Linked DNA regions of Homo sapiens: region 2 is linked to region 1. The links come from fine-mapping of genetic effects on gene expression. Tissue or cell type: whole blood. Region 1 holds a variant in brackets; the other region holds the start of a gene. All regions are shown on one strand. Distances are between the middles of the regions.

Evidence for each region. PIP is the estimated chance that this variant, and not a neighbour inherited with it, causes the effect.
Region 2: it holds the start of SUPT5H, and the variant in region 1 is fine-mapped to the expression of SUPT5H in whole blood (TOPMed, PIP above 0.99).

Annotation. Positions count from the first base shown.
Region 1 is chr19:39,334,196-39,342,297 of GRCh38, forward strand. GMFG (glia maturation factor gamma) reads right to left here and starts at 1,848. Exons shown (of 7, transcript NM_004877.4): 1 at 1,779-1,848; 2 at 1,240-1,336; 3 at 1,066-1,115. The coding sequence starts at 1,781. RefSeq lists a silencer at 7,915-8,102. The variant G/T (reference allele first, on the strand shown) is at 3,521.
Region 2 is chr19:39,441,741-39,449,842 of GRCh38, forward strand. It overlaps SUPT5H (SPT5 homolog, DSIF elongation factor subunit), which reads left to right and starts at 3,842. Exons shown (of 30, transcript NM_001111020.3): 1 at 3,842-3,897; 2 at 4,064-4,225. The coding sequence starts at 4,151. RefSeq lists enhancers at 3,085-3,882, 3,642-3,911, 3,883-4,679, 4,052-4,271.

The DNA.
Region 1 (8,102 bases):
TTAGTAGAGACGGGGTTTCACCATGTTAGCCAGGATGGTCTCGATCTCCTGACCTTGTGATCCGCCCGCCTCAGCCTCCCAAAGTGCTGAGATTACAGGCGTGAGCCACGGCACCCAGCCGAGATGGGGTCTTGCTTTGTTGCCCAGGTTGGTCTCAAAACTCCCAGCCTCAAGCAACCCTCCCACCTCAGCCTCCTGTGTAGCTGAGATCACAGGTGCACACCACTGTGCTTGGCTAATTTTTGTATTTTTAGTAGAGTTAGGGTGTTACCATGTTGCCCAGGCTGGTCTTAAACTCCTGGGCTCAAGTGATCCTCCTGCCTCAGCCTCCCAAAGCGCTGGGATTACAGGCATGAGCCACCATGCCTGGCTAGCTTTTTAACTTATATGGAAACTCTTTCATTTAAATGCCAATAAAGCATTATTATCATCATTATTAAGATCATCATCACCTTATTGAGCACATACTAAGTGCCAGGCCTTGTTCTAAACCCATTACAAGAATTAAATCACTGGATGTAAAAACAAGCCTATGAGATAAGTACTATTCTCCCCATTTCACAGATGAGGAAATAGAGACACAAACAGGCAAAGTCTCTTGCTGGGGGTCATGAGTGAGCTAGAACTTGATCTCCAGGGTTTTTTGTTTTTTTGTTTTTTGTTTTTGTTTTTGAGACAGAGTCTTGCTCTGTGGTTCAGACTGAAGTGTAGTGGCACAATCTCGGCTCACTACAGCCTCCATCTCCCGGGTTCCAGCGATTCTCCTGCCTCGGCCTCCCAAGTAGCTGTGATTACAGGTGCCCACCACCATGCCTAGCTAACTTTTTATATTTTTAGTACAGATGGGGTTTCACCATGTTTGCCAGGCTGGTCTTGAACTCCCAACCTCAGGTGATCCACCTGCCTCGGCCTCCCAAAGTGCTGGGATTACAGGCATGAGCCACTGTGCTCGGCCAATCTCCAGGTCTTTCTACCCCCATGCCAGGCTCTTCATATCAGTTCCAACCACTTGGTTCTCCCAGTCTCACCCTGTACCTCCCAGTCCCAATCACCCCAGCCCATCACCTGAAATTCTTCCTCCAGCACCACCATCTGCCGGTCTTTGTCCACCTTCACTGGGGAGGGGTGGCACACAGGGATTAGACACTCCCCCTGATCCATGGGGGACACAAGCCCAGCCCTCCCTATCTGCCCTCACCACCGCCCTCCCATCCTTCTGTGGGGGAAGATGTCACTCACTTATGATGGCTGCATTGTCTGTCTCTTTTCGGAAGCGGAATTTCCTCAGCTTTTCTGTTAGCTCTGGGTCTACCTCGCACACCACCAGGGAGTCAGACTGCCGGAGGGACCCAGGAAGAGCTGAAATGGCCTGGCCTCAGCCCTCACCCCTTCCCCAAACCTGTTTCTCCATCCACTAATGAAGAGGAGCATCGCGCCGGCCCATCTGATGCCTTTGTGAACATTGAGAAAAGGCACCCTTCCCACAGAGTAGATACCCCTCACCAGGGCACTCAGCTTGGGGGGCGGAGCAGAGGCTGGGTTCCCGCCTTCTCCACGGGGACTCTTGGGGGACACTCAAGGAGGTGCAGAGATCCACTTCCTGAGCCTAAACCCAGAGCCACTGTCTCTCTGTTCTTCCAGCCGGGCTGTTCACCACAGTTGGGCCCCCTTCCCGGCCCGTGACCTCCATCCCATAGCCTGACCTTCGCCCAGGTGTCCTCCAAGCCCCAGCCCCAACCCCAGCCCCAGCTCTTCCCATAGAACCCCTGGCCCCTGACCATGATTGTTCTGTCCACAGGCCTCTTCTTTTCTTAGTTCCGCTGTCTTCTAGGCGTGGGGACCGGGGCTGTAGGGGGGCGGGCTGTGCAGTAGGAGGAAGGTTTCATCCAACACCACATCCTGTTTATGCCCTTTCTGGGACAACTGTCACAGAGGGCTCCTCCCCCTCCTTCCTTCCCCTCATCTGCCAGGACCTGTCAGGAAATCGCTCAGACCAGGGTTCCAAAGCTTCCTTGCTGTGTGACCCTAGCTAAGTAACTTCACCCCTCTGATTTGAGATTGTGGTGAGGATATAAATAGCTTCACATCGGCCGGGCATGGTGGCTCACACCTGTAATGCCAGCACTTTGGGAGGCCGAGGCGGGCGGATCACCTGAGGTCAGGAGTTGGAGACCAGCCTGACCAACATGGCAAAACCCCATCTCTACTAAAAATACAAAATATTAGCCTGGCATGGTGGTGCACGCCTGTGATCCCAGCTACTCGGGAGTCTGAGGCACAAGAATTGCTTGAATCCGAGCAGCAGAGGTTGCAGTGAGCCAAGATCACATCATTGCACTCTATCCCAGGCAATAAAAATACAAATAAATAAAAATAAATAAATAAATAGCTTCACATAGCTGCCAGCATGGCAGACACAATAGGTACTAAAAACGAACTATTTTGCTCCTCCCCTCCTCCAGGTGGCCTTCCTAGATTTACCCCCATCTGGGATATTTGAATTGCAGGGCTGGAAAAGGGGAGTTTAGTCTTTTGCTGGTCAGACTGACGCCCATTATGTCAATGGCAAAATGGGGACCAGAGGGGCAACCCCACAGTGCCTGGGTAATGGTGACTTTTTTCCTGCACTTTTCCAACCTCACTAGCCTTGCAATGACCTATGAGGCCCTACAACAAGGGAGTTCAATCCCGTCAGACCGGTACCCAATTTTTTTTTTTTGAGACAGGGTCTCACTCTGTCGCCCAGGCTGGAGTGCAGTGGTGCGATCTCAGCTCACTGCAACCTCCGCCTCCCAGGTTCAAGCCATTCTCCGGCCTCAGCCTCCCAAGTAGCTGGGACTACAGGCACGTGCCACTACGCCCGGCTAATTTTTGTATTTTTAGTAGAGATGGGGTTTCACCATGTTGGCCATGTTGGTCTCGAACTCCTGACCTCAAATGATCCACCTGCCTCAGCCTCCGAAAGTGCTGGGATTCCAGGTGTGAGCCACTGTGAGCCACCATGCCCGGCTATTTTTTTTATTGAGTATTTTTGCACTGCCCCCTTTTCCCATCCCGAAATAAAATTCCTAGATAATATAACCTACTTACACACATAAATTCAAAAAAAAATCAATATAATGTCCTGACTGTCATATAAAGAAGAAATAAAAGGAATGTAGTTCACACAAAAACCATATGTATTTCAGTGAGAAGATAAAAGCAAACAAAAGACAATTTCCACAGGGTCCTAGGCCAACTGTGACTGGCCCACTTCCCTCCATGGTGGGCAAACCCCGGACCCTACACTGGACTCTACCCCTTCACCTACATCTCTGCAGCTGTCCTCTCTCTCCCTCTTGTCTCACCAACGTCCCCATGCCTCCTGGATCTTTCTCCTTAGCCTCCATGCAGTGTTACTTCTTCCATCTTAATTTTTTTCTTTTCTTTTTTTCTTTTATTTTGAGACAGGGTCTCATTCTGTTACCCAGGCTGGAGTGCAGCGGTGTAATCATGGCTCACTGCAGTCTCCAACTCCTGG[G/T]CTCAAGCCACCTTCCCACCTTGGCCTCCTAGGTAGCTGGGACTATAGGCACGCAACACCATGCCTGGCCAATTTTACTTTTGATTTTTATAGAGACAGGATCTCGCTATGTGGCCCAGGCTGGCCTCAAACTCCTGGCCTCAAGCGATCCTCCTGCCTCAGCCTCCTGGTGTGCAGGGATTACAGGCGTGAGTCACTGTGTCTGGCCTCTTCCATCTTAAAAACATAAAACTGTATCTCCTGTCCAGCTGCTGCTCACTCATTTCCTTCCCTTTTCTGCAAGATTTCTCAAAAGAGGCCGGGCGTGGTGGCTCATGCCTGTAATCCCAGCACTTTGGGAGGCCAAGGCGGGTGGATCACGAGGTCAGGAGATCGAGACCATCCTGGCTAACAAGGTGAAACCCCGTCTCTACTAAAAATACAAAAAATTAGCCGGGCGTGGTGGCAGGTGCCTGTAGTCCCAGTTACTCAGGAGGATGAGGCAGGAGAATGGCGTGAACCCAGGAGGCGGAGCTTGCAGTGAGCCAAGATTGCGCCACTGCACTCTAGCCTGGGTGACAGAGTGAGACTCCTTCTCAAAAAAAAAAAAAAGATTTCTCAAAAGAATAATCTACATTGCTGCCTCCAATTTCTCCTCCCAGTTTTCTCTTCTGCCTTCTCCAATCAGCCTTTCACCTGTATTCCTCTCAGCTGACATGCCCTTGTCAAGGTCACCCATGCACTCCACGGTGCTGGATCTAATGGTCAATTCTCACTCCTCCTCAGCCACATCTGACACAGCCCATCACTCCCTGTTCCCTGAAACATCGTCTTCATGACACCACACTTGCCTGGTTTTCTTTTTTTCTTTTCTTTTTTTTTTTTTTTGAGACAGGGGTCTCGCTCTGTCACCCAGGCTGGAGTACAGTGGCACCATCTCAGCTCACCGCAACCTCCGCCTCCTGGGTTCAAGCGATTCTCTCACTTCAGCCTCCCAAGTAGCTGGGATTACAGGCGTGAGCCACCACACCCGGCTAATTTTTTTTTTTTTTTCTTGAGATGGAGTGTCTCTCTGTCACCCAGGCTGGAGTGCAGTGGCACAATCTCGGCTCACTGCAACCTCCACCTCCCAGGTTCAAGCAGTTCTCCTGCCTCAGCCTCATGAGTAGCTGGGATTACAGGTGTGCGCCACCACAACCAGCTAATTTTTGTATTTCTAGTAGAGACGGGGTTTCACCATGTTGGTCAGGCTAGTCTCGAACTCCTGACCTCGTGATCAGCCCACCTCAGCTTCCCAAAGTGCTGGGATTACAGGTGTGAGCCACCGCGCCTAGCCATATTTTTGTATTTTTAGTAGAGACAGGGTTTTACCATGTTGGCCAGGCTGGTCTCAAACCCTCCCATGGGCCAGACACAGTGGCTCATGCCTGTAATCCCAGCACTTTGGGAGGCCAAGGCAGGAGAATTGCTTGAGACCAGGAGTTCAAGACCAGCCTGGGCAACATAGCAAGACCTTGTCTCTACAAAAAAATTTTAAAAGTAGCCGGGCATGGTGGCATGTGTCTGTAATCCCAGGTACCAGCTACTTGGGAGGCTGAGGTTGGGAGGATCACTTGAGCCCAGGAGTTTGAGGCTGCAGTGAGCTAGGATCACACCACTGCACTCCAGCCCAGGTGACAGAGTAAGATCCTATCTCTAAAAACCAAACAGCAGGCCAGGCGCAGTGGCTCACGCCTGTAATCCCAACACTTTGGGAGGCCGAGGCAGGCAGATCACTTGAGTCCAGGAGTTCAAGACCAGCCTGGGCAACATGGTGAAACCCCATCTCTACTAAAAATACAAAACTTAGCCAGGTTTGATGGCATACGGCTGTAGTTCCAGCTACTCCAGAGGCTGAGGCAGGAGAATCACTTGAACCCAGGAGGCAGGGGTTGCAGTGAGCCGAGGTTGCAGTGAGCCGCGATCGCACCACTACAATCCAGTCTGGGCAACAGAGTGAGACCCTGCCCCCCCCCCCCACACACACACACACACACACACACACACACACCAACAATGACTAAAATACTAAGTTATCTGTCACCACCCCTACCCCATTGCCTCTTGGACCTTGTCCTTCACTGCCCTCTTTTGCTCACTCCACTCCAGCAATGCTGGCCCCTTTGTGGTTCTGTGAATGATCCTACTACATGGCCTTTGCACTTGCTGTTTTCTCTTTCTGGAACCCACTTTCTCCTTCATTCCTTCAGATTTCTGTTTCAGTCTCACCTAATGAAAGAGGCCTTTCCCCATGTAAATTAATTCTGGCTGCATTACTCCATTCCCTTAGCTGCTTTCTTGTTATTTATTTGTTTATTTATTTAGAGACATAGTCTCGCTCTGTCACCTGGGCTAGAGTGCAATGGCAAATCTCGGCTTATTGCAACCTCCGACTCCTGGGTTCAAGTGATTCTCCTGCCTCACCCTCCTGAGTAGCTGGAACTACAGGCACGCATCACTATGCCCAGTTAATTTTTGGCATTTTTAGTAGAGACAGGGTTTTGCCACTTTGGCCAGGCTGGTCTCAAACTCCTGGCCTCAAGTGATCCACCAGCCTCAGCCTCCCAAAGTGCTGGGATTACAGGCATGAGTCACCATGCCCAGCCACTGCTTTCTTTTTCTCCTTGGTACTTATCACGAAGTTACACTGTATTTCCTTATTGTTTGTGTCCCCAAGAACTAGAATGTAAGTCTTTTTGTTTTTTTTTTGTTTTTTTTTTGAGACGGAGTTTCACTGTTGTTGCCCAGGCTGGAGTGCAATGGCACGATCTTGGCTCACTGCAACCTCCGCCACCCGGGTTCAAGCGATTCTCTTGCCTCAGCCTCCCAAGTAGCTGGGACTACAGGCATGTGCCACCACGCCCCGCTAATTTTGTATTTTTAGTAGAGATGGGATTTCACCATGTTGGTCAGGCTGGTCTCGAACACCTGCCTCGGCCTCCCAAAATGCTGGGATTACAGGTGTGAGCCACCGCGCTCATCCTATTGTTGTGTTTCTAGCACCTTAAGCAGAGCCTGGCACATATTAGATAGTCAAGAAATATTATTGAATGAATTAATGAACCAGCAGTTAATGAGCACAATAATTCTATGCAGTGTGAAGGCTGTTGCTTAAATGCAGGAGGTAGTGGATGGGGTTTGTGACATGGCCCCACCCTGGTGAAACAGCCTTTCCTCAAAGCGTCTATAATGCCACACTCTCCTGGTTTTCCTCTCTCTGGCTGCCTTTTGCAATATTCATCGACAGCGTCAATTCCTTTGCTCAAATCCTGCCTCTCTGTTTCAGGGTTCTGTTCAGTCCCTGTCTCCAGTGACCCTTCATACCCTCCCCGGGCTAGACCCCTAACTCCCACAGCCTCAATTACCATCTTTGACGATCCTTAAATCTTGGTCTCCAGCCTCAATTTCTCCCTTAAGCTCCAGACCCAGGGTTTGTGCACCTCCTGGACCTCGCTACTAGGCATCCACATTGGGCTTAGTATCTTCCCAACCTGCTTCTGGCGCCCAGTCTCCCGGCTAGAGGGGCCTGGTCCTAAACTTTTCTCCCCCTTCCACTCCATAGCCAGCCAGTGTCAGGGCCCGTTCGCTCTGCCTCCAGGGCGTCCCTCCCACCTGCACCTCCTTCCCTCCCCACAGTCCCTCCCTCGTGCAAACCCCCTCTTTCTTCCCCACCCCCTCCCCCAGCTGCCTCCCTGGACTCCCGATCCCGTTTCATTCCCTCCAATCCGCCCTCCATGTATAAGCCAGAGAGACATCTCTCCAAAACCCCAGACTCACCATGATCCTCCCCGGCTTGAAGCCCTTCACGGCTCCCTAGTGCCCTCGGGACAAGTCCAAACTCCCTCAAGTGGCCAAACAACTGGCCTCTGCTCGTTCCTCACCCCTCCCTGTCTTCAACTCGACCCTCCATCCCGACTGCCTCTCTAAGTGCCTGTAACAAGCCAGATCTCTGTCACCGAGAGCCTTCTGAACACAGGTCCCTCTGATTAGTTCACCCGGACCCAATACAGTTTGTGGAACGCACAGATCACAACCAAAGTCACAGCAACAACTCCCGTTTATTGACAGCCTCCTTGATCCTTAGCGCTTTCTGTGCATTCTCTTCCCACCCTAAAGGCTAGATCTCGCCTCGCCATTCCCATCGGAGAGAGCAAGCGGCAAGGCTGAGAACAGCGCGATGAGAAAGCCGAGCGCCCAGAAGCCCGAGTGCAGACGCCCACTGAGGACAGCCTTGGGTGAGGCGGGCCACCCAAGGGGCGGGGAAGAGGAGGCCTGGAACGCCTGAATCAGGAACTGTGACTTCGCTCGGGGCAGCTGGGGTGGACGCGCGCGAGCCTGCCCCCTGCGGGCCTGGAGGCCCAACCTCAGACTCCGCCGGGCCCGTTGCCCTGGGCAACGCCCCGCGCGCCCCGCCCCTTCCCCGCCCCCCAGCCCCAAACCCCAGGCCTGGCCGACTGCCCGTCACCCCCACGTCCGACCAATCCCGCCGAGGAGGGGGCGGGCCTCTTGGGCCCCGTTCCACCACCGTCGCTCCCCCCTCGCCGCGACCCCGCCTTACTCGGCT
Region 2 (8,102 bases), 110 kb after region 1:
TCTGACCTCTTGGGCAGGGAGTTGGATAAATTGCCCCACCTGCCCCCATTCTCACCCTCCTTTAGATACTCTTCTCTCTTCTTCCAGGAAGGGACAGAGAAGTGCACAGGTATTCTCTAACCTCATCCCTATACCTTGAGAACAGGGAGGGTCCTGTGGTTCACATCCCTACATCCCTGGCTACAAAAAATTACCACTTGAAGAACTTTCTTTTCTTTTCTTTTCTGTTTTTGAGGCAGAGTCTCACTCTGTTGCCCAGGCTAGAGTGCAGTGGCATGGTCTCAGCTCGCTGCAACCTCCACCTCCTGGGTTCAAGTAATTCTCCTGCCTCAGCCTCCTGAGTAACTGGGATTACAGGCACGCGCCACTACACCTGACTAATTTTTGTATTTTTAGTAGAGATGGGGTTTCACAATGTTGGTCACGCTGGTCTCGAACGCCTGACCTTGTGATCTGCCCACCTCAGCCTCCCAAACTGCTGGGATTACAGGCGTGAGCCACCGTGCCCAGCCCACCACTTGGAGAACTTTCAAGTAATACTGATGGCCAGACCCCAGCCCAGATAATTTGATAATTGGTCTCTGGTGAAGCCTGAGCATCTATATTATTTTTATTATTATTTAGAGACAGGGTTTCACTATGCTGCACAGGCTGTAACTTGGCATCTGCCCATATATTTTTTTGAGACAGGGTCTCACTCTGTCACCCAGGCTGGAGTGCAGTGGCATGATCAAAACTCATTGCAGGCTCGATCTTTCAGGCTCAAGTGACTCTCCCACCTCAGTCCCCCAAGTAGCTAGCGCTATAGGCGCATGCCACCACACTCAGCTAATTTTTGTATTTTTTGTAGAGATGGGGTTACCCTTTATTGCCCAGGCTAATCTTGAACTCCTGGCTCAAGCGATACTCCCCCCTTGGCCTCCCAAAGTGCTGGGATTATAGGCATGAGCCACCACACCTGACATTTTTTTTTTTTTTTTGAGACAGAGTCTCCCTTTGTCACCCAGGCTGGAGTGCACCGGCTGGTGGACTGGATGGCCACATTTCCATCACCCCAAAGCATTCCTTCTCTCTCTTCCCAGTCAATTTCCACCTCCCTCTCCAGCCCCAGACATCCACTAATCTGCATTGTCTGTATAGGTTGGTTTTGCTTGCTCTGGAGTTTCATATGAATGGAATCATGCTGGACATCTCCTGATGTCTGGCTTCTTTCACTCAGCATAATGTTTTGGAGATTCAGTCATGGGTGTATTGGTAGTTGTTACTATTCTGTTGCATGGATGGATGTACCAAAATTTGTTTTTCTTTTGAGACGAGTCTCACTCTGTTGCCCAGGCTGGAGTGCAGTGGTGCGATCTCTGCTCACTGCAACCTTCACCTCCCTGGTTCAAGTGATTCTCCTGCCTCAGCCTCCCAAGTAGCTGGGATTACAGGCGTGCGCCACCACACCTGGCTATTTTTTTTTTTTTTTTTTTTGTATTTTTAGTAGAGATGGGGTTTCACCATATTGGCCAGGCTGGTCTTGAACTCCTGACTTCGTGATCCGCCTGCCTTGGCCTTCCAAAGTGCTGGGATTACAGGCGTGAGTCACTGCGCCCGGCCCTAATTTTTGTGTTTCCAGTTTAGGGCTATTATGCAACTCTTTCTTTCTAAAATATTCTCAAGTATTCTGATGTGCTACCAGAGTTGAGTTCAGAACCACGGATCCACCAAGGAAGAAACTTCCATGGCTGGGGAAATGACTGTGCCCTCTTTTTTCTGCAGGGAATGGCTTTCTGCAGCAGTGTCTGTAGCGATTTAATATGTAGAATCCTATTTTCTTGTTGTTTTTTTTTTTGAGACGGAGTCTTGCTCTTTTGTCACAGCAACCTCCACCTCTCAAGTTCAAGAGATTCTCCTGCCACAGCCTCCCGAGTAGCTGGGATTACGGGTGTGCGCCACTACGCCACCTGGCTAATTTTTGTATTTTTTAGTAGAGACAGGGTTTTACCATGTTGGCCAGGCTGGTCTTGAACTCCTGACCTCAGGTGATCCGCCTGCCTTGGCCTCCCAAAGTGCTGGGATTACAGGCGTGAGCCACCGCGCCCGGTGGAGAATCCTTTCTTTTTTTGAGATGGAGTCTAGCTCTGTTGCCCAGGCTGGAGTGCAGTAGCACGATCTCGGCTCACTGCAAGCTCGGCCTCCCGGGTTCACGCCATTCTCCTGCCTCAGCCTTACGTGTAGCTGGGACTACAGGCGCCCGCCACCACGCCCAGCTAATTTTTTTTTGTATTTTTAGTAGAGATGGGGTTTCACCGTGTTAGCCAGGATGGTCTCGGTCTCCTGACCTCGTGATCCACCCGCCTCGGCCTCCCAAAGTGCTGGGATTACAGACGTGAGCCACCGCGCCCGGCCCAGGTGTGTCATACTTATGTGAGAAATTTTACCAATGTGTCCTGAGGCTTCTTTTTTTTTTTTTTTTTTTTGAGACTGAGTCTCACTCTCGCCCAGGCTGGAGTGCAGTGGCGCGATCTCGGCTCACTGCAAGCTCCGCCTCCTGGGTTCACGCCATTCTCCTGCCTCAGCCTCCCGAGTAGCTAGAATCACAGGCACATGCCACCACGCCCGGCTAATTTTTTTGTATTTTTAGTAGAGACGGGGTTTCACCATGTTGGCCAGACTGGTTTCGAACTCCTGACCTCAGGCAATCTGCCCGCCCCGGCCTCCCAATGTGTTGGGATTACAGGCATGAGCCACCGCGACTGACATAGACTTCTGATTTTTAAAATTTCCCCTATCAGGTTAATTTTTCAATTTTTAAAAATTTAAGTTTTAATTTTTTTTTTTTTTTTTTTTTAGAGACAGGGTCTCTATTACCCAGTCTGGAGTGCAGTGGTGCAATCATAGCTCACTGAAGCCTCAACATGGGTTCAAGTGATCCTCCCACCTTAGCCTTTGGAGTAGCAGGGACCACAGGCACACGCCACCACACCACATTAAAAAAAACACAAAAATTGGATACATGGGGTCTCAATTTGTTGCCCATGCTAGTCTCAAATACCTGGCCTCAGGTGATCCTCCCGCCTCAGCCTCCCAAAGCGCTGGGATTACAGGCGAAGGTTCATTTTTCATCTCTCCATTACACCTGTCCACTCTGCCATCACTCGTCAGCCGTCATTACTAATAGATAAATTCGCCTTTAAATGAACTTAGGAAGCCTGGAAAGAAAAATAGGGACTTGGGCCGGGCGCGGCAGGTTATGCCTGTGATCTCAGCACTTTGGCAGGACGAGGCCGGAGGATGGCTTTTTAGTTTGAGTTAGAGGAGTTTGAGACCAGGCCGGGCAACAGCCCGACTCTACCAAAAAAAAAAAAAAAGTACAAAAAGAAAGAAAAAGAAGGAAAAACCAGGGCTTCACGGTCACTCAGACTTGGCGAGGAGGCTTGGGTCTGCCGCTTTCCACTGAGTTTTTCTGAGCTTCAGCGTTCTCTCCAAAACGGGGATACGGATCTCCTGGGGATGCTTTAGAGGGCCTAGGAGATAAAGCCTTGTTTCTTTTATAATTTGCTATTCGCTGATTTCGCCGCCTCCTCGCAGCTTGGCCTACCGCGCTAGTGTTCCGGACTAACGAACAAACGGCTCACTAAATTCAAACATGAGTTTCAGCCTGGTCGCCGAGCCGGCGGGTAGAAAAAACCTTTCCCCTCCTAACCCTCCGCAGATGTCGGCCCCGCACTCCGCCCAGGCCAGCCCTGCCTCTCTCAAGATGGCGACCTGGAAGTGCGTCGCCCGTGCCAGCCCCGGAAATCTCGTGTTAGGCGAGGTCAACGGGTAGGTTCTCGCGAGAGGACCCGTCAGCCCCAGTCAGGCGTCGTGCGAACAGCAGCTGGTACCGAAGGCGGAGGTGGAGCCCGAGAGGTAAGTGCGTGTGCAGAGGTGGCAGTTCCGGGCGCCGGGGAGGTGTAGAGAACAGATTCGGAAACTGGGGAGGTCTAGCATGTGGCGTAGGAGGGGGTCCTCACTCCGCTTCGCGATTGCCAAAACGAGCCTGCCGGAAGCGCCCTAAGGGGTTTTCTTCTCCCAGGGAACCAGCGGGGAAACTGAGGCTCGGGGTGGAGCGCAGGATTGTGGGACGCGCCAAGGCTGCTGTCTTTCCCAGCAGCAGCGGAAGATGTCGGACAGCGAGGACAGCAACTTTTCCGAGGAGGAGGACAGCGAGCGCAGCAGTGACGGCGAGGAGGCCGAGGTCTGTGGCTGGGGCGCTGGGGGAGACATTGCGTCTGGGGACAGGACTCCGGGCAGAAAGGCCCCTGTGGGAGGCTCGAGGGGTTCACAGCGGGCTCTGGCTTCTGGGAACTCCCAGATTGTCTCAAGAGATAGAGAATTAGGCAAGTCGAAGTCAAGCAAAGGGACAGGTTCTGGAGGCCAGAAATGGGTCAGGTCCAGTGAGATAACAGGTGATGTTTTGAAAGTTTACTCTGTGTGCATATAGTAAGCACTTAGCATTAGTTTTTTTTTTTAGTTATGTCTAGTCATTCCATAACTATATTTGTAGTGCCTACTATGTACCAGGCGCAATTCTTTGCTCTTAGGGTACACCAGTAAACAAAAAGATTTTAAAAATGTCTGCCTTCGGGAATGTAAATAAATATAGCCAAGGAATAAACTATATAGTAAGCTGGAAGGTACTCTGGAGAAAAGAACAGAAAAGGGGAATGGAGAGTCCTGGTTGCTCTTGAAATAGGGTCATCAGCATGAGTCTGAGGGGTGACATTTGAGCAAAAACTTGTTGGAGGTGAGGGAGTGAGTCGTGGTTAGCTGGAAGTGTAGTGTTCCAGTGAGGGGGACCAGCAGGTGCAGAGATGGGAGTGTGTCCGCCGTGTTCAGGGATTAACGAGGATTTGAGAGGCCAAGCTGGGAGGATCACTTGAGCCCAGAAGTTTGAGAGCAATCTCGGTAACACAACGGGACCCTGTCTCTACAAAAATATAAAAACCATTGGCTGAGGCCGGGCTTGGTGGCTCACACCTGTAATCTCAGCACTGTGGGAGGCCAAGACAGTGGATCACCTGAGGTCAGGAGTTCAAGACCAGCCTGGTCAACATGGTGAAACACCATTTCTACTAAAAATACAAAAAAATTAGCTTGGCATGGTGGCGCCCACCTGTAATCCCAGCTACTCGGGAGGCTGAAGCTGAGAATCGCTTGAACCAGGGAGGTGGAGACTGTGGTGAGCTGAGATCGCGCCACTGCACTGCAGCCTGGGCGACGAGCAAGACTCCGTCTTATAAAAATATTAGCTGAGCTTGGTGGCACGCTTCTGTAGTCCCAGCTACTTGGGAGGCTGAGGTGGGAAGATTGCTTGAGCCAGAAGGTGAAGGTCTAGTGAGCTGTGATGGTGCCACTGCACTGCAGCCTGGGTGACAGAGTGAGACTTTGTCTCCCCACCACCCCCTAAAAAAAGGGGGTCCACTTTGGTTGGATCAGAGTGAGTGCAACAAAGAATTTATGAGAGCCAAGTCATATAGGATCTTGAAGGCTGTGGTAAGGAATTTGGTCTTAACTGAGTAAAATGAAACCACGAAAAAGTTTGAGCAAGTGGAAGATGTGATCTAATGTTTTGAAAGGATCACTCTGGCTTTGGGTCTGTTGTACCTCTGTTCCAGGAACCAAAAAACCAACATTTCCTGGGGCATTTCTGATTTCAAATGTTCTTTTATTTGCCATTATCTTTTTTTTTTTTTTTTTTGAGACAGCATCTCACTAGGTTGCACAGGTTGGAGTGCAGTGGCATGATCTCAGCCCACTGCAACCTCAGCCTCCCGAGTAGCTGGGATTACAGGCATGCACCACCACATCAGGCTAATTTCTGTATTTTTAGTAGAGACGGGGTTTCACTGTGTTGGCCAGGCTGGTCTTGAACTCCTGACCTCAGGTGATCCACCCTCCTTGGCCTCCCAAAGTACTGGGATTACAGGCGTGAGCCACTGCACCAAGCCCATTATCCACCTTTTAAACTTATTTTTGTTTTATTTGTTTGTTGAACAAATCAGTGTTTGCATCTACTACTGTGTTCCACTTACTTCTCAGGTGTCTGGTAGGAAATCTTTGCATTTTTGGAGTTGACATTTAGTAGGTAGCAATCACAAACCAGTAAACAGATGACAGGGTGATTATAGATCCCTTGTTTGATGCACAGAAACTTAAATTGGCTGTTAAATTAGTTGCCAATGCTTGTGAGGGAGATTTAACATAAAGATTAAGATTTCTTTTTCTGGGGAAATGGAAGGAGCTGGCACCCTGGGACACAGAGTTGTTCTGCAGAGCAGCCGTTTGCTTGATGAGTGGCTGCCCTACTTATACAGCTGGGAATTTTCTCCAGTTCCCAGGATATGTTAGTTGCCATTTGTCCTCTTGCTTGCCTTGTGGCAGAGTGAAGAAAAGGAAAAGATTTCATGTGGCTGTGTTCTGGAAAACGTTTGGTAGATGGAGAGTGCTGTGTGTTTCGGGTGACTTGTCCCAGTCACTTATGTTGCCTGCTTATCCTCTGTGGACATTTGATTGCCAATCTTTATTGTGACCTTTGGAGAGTGCCTGGCTTCCAGGCTTGCAGTGAAGAGTTGGAGAAATTGGGATGCTGTGGTGGGAGAGTGACAGGGAGGGCCTTTTCTCTAAGCTGTAGCACTGGATTCTTGGTCTCTGATTCATGGCTTGGAGACACTGCTTGGTGGTTAAAGTCAGGTGGAAATGAGACCAAGATCCCCAGTTCCATTTCCTGTCTGGGACATTCTCGTTTGCACTGTTACTAGTCTCACTTCCCCAACACTACACCATACTTGACCCCCCACCCCCGCCGCTGGCTCCTCTTCAGTTACCAGGTGAGGCAAGAGGGCACTGTGAGGCCTGTCCCCACTGCCAGGGACAGGATTGGATGGCCTTTTCAGACAGCCAAATGATGACATGGTCCTTGAAGGACAGGGTTCTGTGGCTAGACAGGTAGGGATGGCAAATAATGAGCTACTTTTGAGGGGAGCTGCTGGTTCACCCATCATGGCTCCAGTAACCTGTTCATTTATTCATTCAACAAATGTTCTGGCTGGGTGTGGTGGCTCACGCCTGTGATCCCAGCACTTTGGGAGGCTGAGGTGGGTGGATCACGAGGTCAGGAGATTGAGACCATCCTGGCTAACATGGTGAAACCCCGTCTCTACTAAAAATACAAAAAATTAGCGTGGTGGTGGGTGCCTGTAGTCCCTGCTACTTGGGAGGCTGAGGCAGGAGAATGGCGTGAACGCAGGAGACAGAGCTTGCAGTGAGCAGAGATCGCACCATTGCACTCCAGCCTGGGAGACAGAGCGAGACTGCATCTCAAAAAACAAAAAACAAAAAACAAATGTTCCTTGACTTGGCATGTTGGGGTCACAGTCTCCCTTACAGAGATCTCAGTCTCAAGGCAGAGGCAGTTTTATAGATACACAGTTACTGCAGGGGATGTTGAGGACGGTGAGAGCACATCCAAGCCCTGAGGTGAGCAGAGAGTGGTGGGGGCATCCTCCACTGGGAGGGAGGAGCCAGGTTTGGAAAGAGGCATCTCTGGGACCTGTCAGAGGGGAACTGATGACAAGGTTCCTAGAAATCAGCCTGTGGTCCTGTCATAGTTTGGGTTGTTAAAATGTGCTTCATCGTGGGCTAGTCGAGATTTGTGTTAAGCAAATATTTCTGAAGTCTTCTGTGCTTGGCCTTGGGCTGGGTGATGTTGGGGGACCCAGCAGTGCCTGAGATGGACTGGGCCCTACTATTGGGAGGCTCACAGTGGTCAGGGCTGTGATGGAGGGAGCCCAGAGAATTGTGAGCATAGAGGATGTGCCTGACTCTGCCTGGGGGAGAGGGGGCGGGGATGGCTGCCTGGAGGAGGAAGGTTAGTTTGGTTTTTTTTTTTTGTCTTGGTGTCTTGCTCTGTCACCCAGGCTGGAGTGCAGTGGCACGATCTCAGCTCACTGCAGCCTCCACCTCACGGTCAAGCAGTTCTCCTCTCTCAGCTTCCTGAGTAGCTGGGATTACAGCGGTGCGCCACCACACCTGGCTGATTTTTATATTTTTGGTAGAGATGGGGTTTCACCATG